2 linked regions of the Homo sapiens genome follow. The protein of the gene in region 1 purifies or fractionates together with the protein of each later gene. This does not show direct contact. Each region holds a gene or a part of one and is shown in the gene's direction. Other genes may lie near its edges.

Region 1 (3,500 bases):
GCCGCTGCTCCTTTTTCTTCCTCCCATCCCTTGCTGCCTGCCCACACGTGGCTCCCCTTCTAAGCCTGATGCCAAGACCAAACAGTCCTCCAAGGAAAGTATTAATCTTACTGTGTCCATATTGAAAACTTGCAGAACCAACACCGTAAATTGTAAAACTCAAAGGCGGTTGACAAGCTGGCTACAAGTGTGACAAAGGGCTGAATATCCTTACTATGTAAAGAGATTTTGTAGATCAATAAGAAAAAGTAAACATCTCACTGTGAAAATGGGCAAAGGATATGAACACGTGATTCACACACACTGTCTCACACAAACACACTGGCCAGTAGGTTATGAGAAAATGTTTAGTCTAATTTGCAGAGAAAACTAATGAAAACCACCACAAGGTATACTGGGATTTTTAAATTATTATTATTAAGGAATTTGCAAGGACCTTTTCCCAAATGATAATACCCTCTTGCTGGCAAGGGGGTGGGAACATGGCCTTCTGTGGCACGTGGCCGGGAGTATAGATTGGAACCAGCTCCCTGGAGGGCACTTTAGCGTGACCTATTGAAAACCTTCCAAGATTACACAACCTTGGAAAATATAAGCCAGGAATTTTGAGCTATGATAATGTTGCAGTGGAATAGCAAAAATCTGGAAACAACCTCAAGGTTCATGCCATTTTCTTTGCCTCCTTTGCCCCCATGACCTCTGGGAATGCAGAGCCCTGAGTGGCAAAGAGCTGCCCTCCACCTCCCGGGCCCTGGGCAGACTTGGGAGCCCAGCAGGAGCCTGCACCTTTGCCGAGCTCTTCACTGCCTCTCTCCTACCCTGTGTCCTCCTCCAGCCCGCTTTCAGAAGGGACCCAGACAGTATTGAGCCCCTCGGTGACCTGTGGACCCACAGGCCTCCTGCTGTGCCGCCCCGTCATCCTCACCATGCCCCACTGTGCCGAAGTCAGTGCCCGTGACTGGATCTTTCAGCTCAAGACCCAGGCCCACCAGGGCCACTGGGAGGTGAGGAGCCACGGTGAAGGCTGGCCCAGCTCTCCCAACCTGCCCAGGGAGGCAAAAGAAAGCCCTTTTCCTCTGGCCCAGCCTGAATAACTGTGACCACTACCCCACCCTTGCTGTCCCCTACAGGAGGTGGTGACCCTGGATGAGGAGACCCTGAACACACCCTGCTACTGCCAGCTGGAGCCCAGGGCCTGTCACATCCTGCTGGACCAGCTGGGCACCTACGTGTTCACGGGCGAGTCCTATTCCCGCTCAGCAGTCAAGCGGCTCCAGCTGGCCGTCTTCGCCCCCGCCCTCTGCACCTCCCTGGAGTACAGCCTCCGGGTCTACTGCCTGGAGGACACGCCTGTAGCACTGAAGGTAGGGCCAGCTGCAGGTGCCCACACAGCCCTGGCCGGCCAGCTGCATGATCCCTGCCAGAATCCCCCACCCCAGGCTCATGGGTCCTCCCAGGAACCCCTCCCCGCCACCAGCATTATTAGGTCCCGCTTGCGACCCTCACACACTGAAACAGCCTTGGGCACAGGGCCTGCCTCACCAAGATCCAGGTTAGAGGTGGGAGGCAGACCAGGGATCCCTGAAGGCTCTGATGGGGTCTGCCCCAGGACTGAGGGAGCATCAGACTGGGAGGGGCTTGGGCTGGTAGGGAGGGACTCTGAGAAGGCTGACATGTAGGAGTTTCAGCAGAAAGGAGTGAAGGGCATTCCAGACCGACAGAAATGACTGCGTTTCATAAGCGTTTCAGCATGACCAACTAAAAGGCATAGGGAATGTGTGAATGTGAGGGCGGGCGAGATGGGCAGGGCTCAGCTTCCCAGAAGCCTCAGGGCCCCTTGCCAAGGAATTTGGAATCCATCCGGCAGGAAGGGGAATGGACCTGGTAGACACCTGTTCACAGGTGCTCTTTAGAAAGCCCCTGTGGCTATACTTGGGTGGGTAGATGAGAGGTGGAGAGGCCTGTTGGGAAGCTGGGGTTGGACCCTGGGCCACAGGGAGTGACAGCAGCCAGGAGAGGCGGGGCTGGATGCTGCGTGTGCTCAGTCAAATGGACAGAACCGGTGACTGATGGGATGGGCAGTGGGAGAGGGAAGTTAAGGCTGACAGCCAGGCTCCTAGCATATGCAGAAGGATGGAGAGCGGTGCCCCAAGTGAAGGAAGGGTCATGCAGATGAGGGGTGGTTGGGACAGGAGGGAGGGAAGGGGAGGGAAGGGTCTTTTAGTACCTAGAGCCTGATGATGGCAGGTATGGAGCCCCGTGTTAGCACCACTGTCCCCTGCCAGCCTCAGAGCCCTTGTGCATTCCCCCAAGTTCTCCTCCCATTCTCAGGAGCTCAGGCTCATCCTGATGTAACCCTGGAAGCATACAGACACTTGGCCGTGTGTGAGCCCCTTCCCCTCCCTCCTCCCATCTGCCCTCCTCAGCGCCTCATGGTCCTTTCCCATGGCTCCATGCACTTTCTGTTCCTGCTCCCTGGCCCCGTCCAGCTCCTTCATCTCCCAGGCTCATGGGACTTGTCCCAAAGCCCACACTGCAGACAACATAGGTGAAAGGCCCATGGGAGAAGGAGTGTCCCCTGCTGGGAGGACCCTGGCTTGAGATGCCAGTGGCCCTGTGATGGGTGCAAGGTGCCTGGGAAGTGCTCCTGCAGCTGGATCTCTTGGTCCTGGGGCGTTGGCTAATGGCCAGCTTTGGCCAGAGAGTGGTATAGAAATCAAGAGAGAAGTTACCAGGTTTGGGCCTGATGGCATTCTTTGTTTATTCAACCCTCCATCCATCCATCTGTCCATCTGTTCATCCATCCATCTGTCTTTCTGTTCATCTGACCATATACCCATTCAGTCAGCAGCCCATCTGTTTACCCAGTCATTGCTCGTCTATCCATTCATTTATCTTTTCTTCCATCTTTCTATTCATATACCCATCCTTGTATATCCATCTGTATATTCATCTGTCTGTCTTTCTAGCCATCAATCCGTTTATCCATCCATCTGTCCATTTATTAGTCCCTCTAGCCATACGGTCATCTATAGATTCATTCATCTAGTCATCTTTCCCACTGTCTGTCTATCCATCCGTCATCTATTCATCTTCTCACACCATAAGCCCTCTGTGAGCTCTTGCAAATGCCCAGCCATGCACTCAGATGGGCCCCTGCCCCCTGCCCCGCACAGTGCCACAGAAGAGGCCCATTGGCCAGGTGTGATGGGTTCCCCTTCCCCATGCCCCTGGCCCACAGGAGGTGCTGGAGCTGGAGCGGACTCTGGGCGGATACTTGGTGGAGGAGCCGAAACCGCTAATGTTCAAGGACAGTTACCACAACCTGCGCCTCTCCCTCCATGACCTCCCCCATGCCCATTGGAGGAGCAAGCTGCTGGCCAAATACCAGGTGAGGGCTGGGCTGATGGATGGGGAGGGGCACCACTTAAGGGCTGCCCGGGAAGCCCAGCTCCCTCCCGGGCCCTGCCTCCTAGCTCTGTCCTGTGGCCTTACCCCTC
Region 2 (3,500 bases), on another chromosome or scaffold:
GGGCCTGGACTTACTCTCTTCTCCTTCTGTGTTCTCCCCAAGTGATCTCATCTGCTCCCGTGGCTTCAGCATTCCAGCTACTTTTGTATTTCTGTCTCCAGCCAAGGCCTCCCTCCTCTGAGTATCAGACTTGCACACACAGTTGCCTCTTCTACATTTCCTCTTGAATGTCTCAGAGACATTTCAAATTCAGCATGTCCAGAGCAGAATTCATCATCTTTTCAGGCAAACCCGCTTCTGCTCCTTTATTCCCAATATTAAGTGGCTTAAATCAGAAACCTTAGCATCATCCTGTACTCCTCTTTCTTCTTTACTCCCACCTCACCCTACATCCATTTATTTACCAAGACCTGTCATGTCTGCCTCCTGAATAACTTTCAAATCTGCCTCTTGCCTCTACTCCCACTGTCCCATGCCATCAGTTATGGCTGAGATTGCAGTAGCATCCTAGCTGGTCTCCTCTTCTATCCCCAACCCCACAGAGCTATTCTTCACATCACAGCTGGTATAAAGTTTTAACTCAAAAGTGTTCTCCTTACTCTCTTGCTTAAAACCATTTAATGGTTTCTCATTACTCACAAAGGGAAGTTCACACTCTTAGCATTGCCCTAAAAGCTCTTTATGATCTGGTCCCTGACTACCTTTCTAGTATTATTTCACATCATTCTCTGCAGGGTTCACTATGTCCCCACCACTCAGGATTTCTTAAAATCCTTCTAATATACCACCAGGGCATTGCACTCTGCTTTAGGGTTTTGACATAAGCTGATTTCACCACCTGGAATGCACTTTCTGTTCCCTTTAGGTCTTAGCTTAAATGTCACTTCCTCCTCTAGGTTTTTCCTGTTCAGCTTAAGTCCAACTGTTAAGAAGTTACTCTAACACTTGACATTTCAGTAAGCTCAGAACATTTTAAAATAATAGTTCAACGTCTGTATTCCTCACTTTATCAAAAATTCTGAGGGCACAGCAGTCTAGCACAGGGTCTGGCATATACTGGGTACCCAGTATGTCCTCATTAGGGGTAAGTAAGAGAGTGAATGGAGAAGCTAAAACACAGAGAAGTAGACATTGTTGTCCCCATTCTTGACTCCACCTAGTTGGTAGTCCTAGTTTGGCAGTCTTCGAAGTTGTTCCGGCCAGGTACAGTGGCTCACGCCTGTAATCCCAGCACTTTGGGAGGCCAAGGCGGCAGATCACCTGAGTTCAGGAATTCGAGAACAGCCTGGCCAACATGGTGAAACCCTGTCTCTACTAAAAACACAAAAATTAGCTGGGTGTGGTGGTGGACGCCTGTAATCCCAGCTACTCAGGAAGCTGAGGCAGGAGAATCTCTTGAACCCAGGAGGCCAGGTTGCAATGAGCCGATATCTCGCCATTACACTGTAGCTTGGGCGACGAGCAAAACTCCATCTCAAAAAAAAAAAACAAAAAAAGTTTTTGCCTCCCTCCTTTATAAGCCACAGACTTTCCCTCTACTCCATTGTTATGTTTCTACATTGCTCTAATTAGAAACTTGTGGATGAACCTTCTGGTTATGAGATTATATAATGAAAAATGCTATCTTAATCTTTTAACAGTCAAAAAAAGTAGTCACAAGGCAGGATTCAAACATAAAGACCCTGGTAAGTATCTCTAAATATGTGTGGACAAAATAGAGATACATTTACTCTCCCCAGGAGCAAACTTGTTGTTGTTGTTGTTGTTGTTGGGGGCAGGAGGTATGTTTTTAGTTTTTGCTTTTTTTGCTTGAAACATCTCTCAGAAAGGAAGTTTTAATCACTCAAGCCTTTTGACAAATACGTTCAAATGAGTTACTTTTTAAAAGCTCCTCTGAACTTCGTGCCTAGGAAACGAGCTGCCTGCAAATCAGTGAATGGCTCTCATAAGTACAAAGGGAATTCCAAAGATGTGAAACCTCCAGATCTCTGGATCCATCATGAGAGACTGGAGCTGAAACCCATTGATAAGTCTCCAGACCCAAACCCCATCATGACTGATACTCCAATTCCTCGCAACTCTCAAGATATCACACCAGTTGACAACTCCATGGACAGCAATATCCATCAAAGGCGAAATTCATACAGAGGTACCATTTTAAGTGCAGGTTTTTTCTCAAATGTTAGGAAACTATTTTCATTTAAATCTTTTTTTTTTTCCCTGAGTTTGCCTTCATTTGGCAATTCCTATATGAGATCAGATTTAGAGAAATGTGTATGATAAGATTTGGGAACATATGATGAAGAATACCTAGCTTCTTATGGGAGAGAGATTCTGTAGCCATACGAGACAATCTTGCAGATCTTTTAGGTCTCTCATCAGGCTTCAGCAGCGTGATATTCAAGGATTTGAGGCTAGCTAGCCCATGTCTGTGCATTTCATTCTGTGTCTTCAGCTGGCTTCCAGCTTGCATTGTGGTATTCAGAACATTCTTGGTCTGGAGGCTCTTATAGACACCCTGTGAAGTATGGTGGGCAGCATTGTGACATCCACATTGATTCAGCAGGAACTCTTGTAATGCTCTAATGATCATTTTCCTCTTTATTTCACTTCTTACAGAAATGTCTTGTCCCCATTATGCTGTTTGTGAATTCTGAATCCCCTACTAGAAATGTTTCACTGTTGAGGCTGCTCAGTGGCATAGGGCACATGCTGGTAACTAACCTCCACGTTTAACATCTAGGGCATGAGTCAGAGGACAGCATGTCTACACTGGCTGGAAGGCGAGGAATGAGACCAAAAATGATGATGCCCTTTGACTCCCAGCCACCCCAGCGTAAGTAGAAGCATCTCTTTTCCTCAGTGCTACCAATCTGTTCAGTCATGTAGGGGAACAACTATGAATGATCTTTTTGACTTCACTTGATTCTAACACAAAGATAATCTACCAAAGCTTTGACACCTTGAAGGAGGAAGTACCAAACACTTGCCATATTTTGCAACAAACATTATTCTTGAGGCTAGCGTCGTTATGTTTATGGTAAATAAGCTGAAAAGCCAATGTCTCCAGATTCCCAGGAATAGGGGAGTAACTAGTCTCCCTAAAAGTGCATCATATCTCTATGGGAGAGATGGGAAAGCTTCCCTCCTCCAGACTAGAGCTAAGGATGGTCTGATGTTACAAGTTTTCATTACGCTGCCTGACACCAGTGCTGATGAGCACCTGTGAAATTTATTTTTTTAATTAATAGATTTGAAGGCCAAGCAAGATGGCCCACACCTATAATCCTAGAGTTTTGGGAGACCAAAGTGGGAGGATTGCTGGAGGCCAGGAGTTCTAGACCAGCCTGGGCAATGTAGTGGGACCCCATCTCTACCAAAAAAAATAAAATTAAAAATTAGCCAGGTATGGTGGTACATGTCTATAATCCCAGCTACTCAGGTGGCTGAGGCATGAGAATCACTTGAACCTGGGAAGCAGAGGTTGCAGTGAGCCAAAATCGTGCTGTTGCACTCCAGCCTGGGTGACAGAGTGAGACTCTGTCTCAAAAAAAATAAAA

The links. The genes of interacting proteins can lie anywhere in the genome.
Region 2: the proteins of UNC5B (region 1) and NEO1 purify together in Homo sapiens (co-immunoprecipitation; one study listed by IntAct). This does not show direct contact.

The regions. Positions count from the first base shown.
Region 1 is NC_000010.11:71,292,570-71,296,069, forward strand, and holds part of UNC5B (netrin receptor UNC5B isoform 1 precursor), read left to right. Parts: intron 1-835; coding exon 836-1,004; intron 1,005-1,130; coding exon 1,131-1,364; intron 1,365-3,241; coding exon 3,242-3,391; intron 3,392-3,500. UniProt on the Homo sapiens protein: Receptor for netrin required for axon guidance. Mediates axon repulsion of neuronal growth cones in the developing nervous system upon ligand binding.
Region 2 is NC_000015.10:73,286,463-73,289,962, forward strand, and holds part of NEO1 (neogenin isoform 1 precursor), read left to right. Parts: intron 1-1,850; coding exon 1,851-2,089; intron 2,090-2,683; coding exon 2,684-2,776; intron 2,777-3,500. UniProt on the Homo sapiens protein: Multi-functional cell surface receptor regulating cell adhesion in many diverse developmental processes, including neural tube and mammary gland formation, myogenesis and angiogenesis.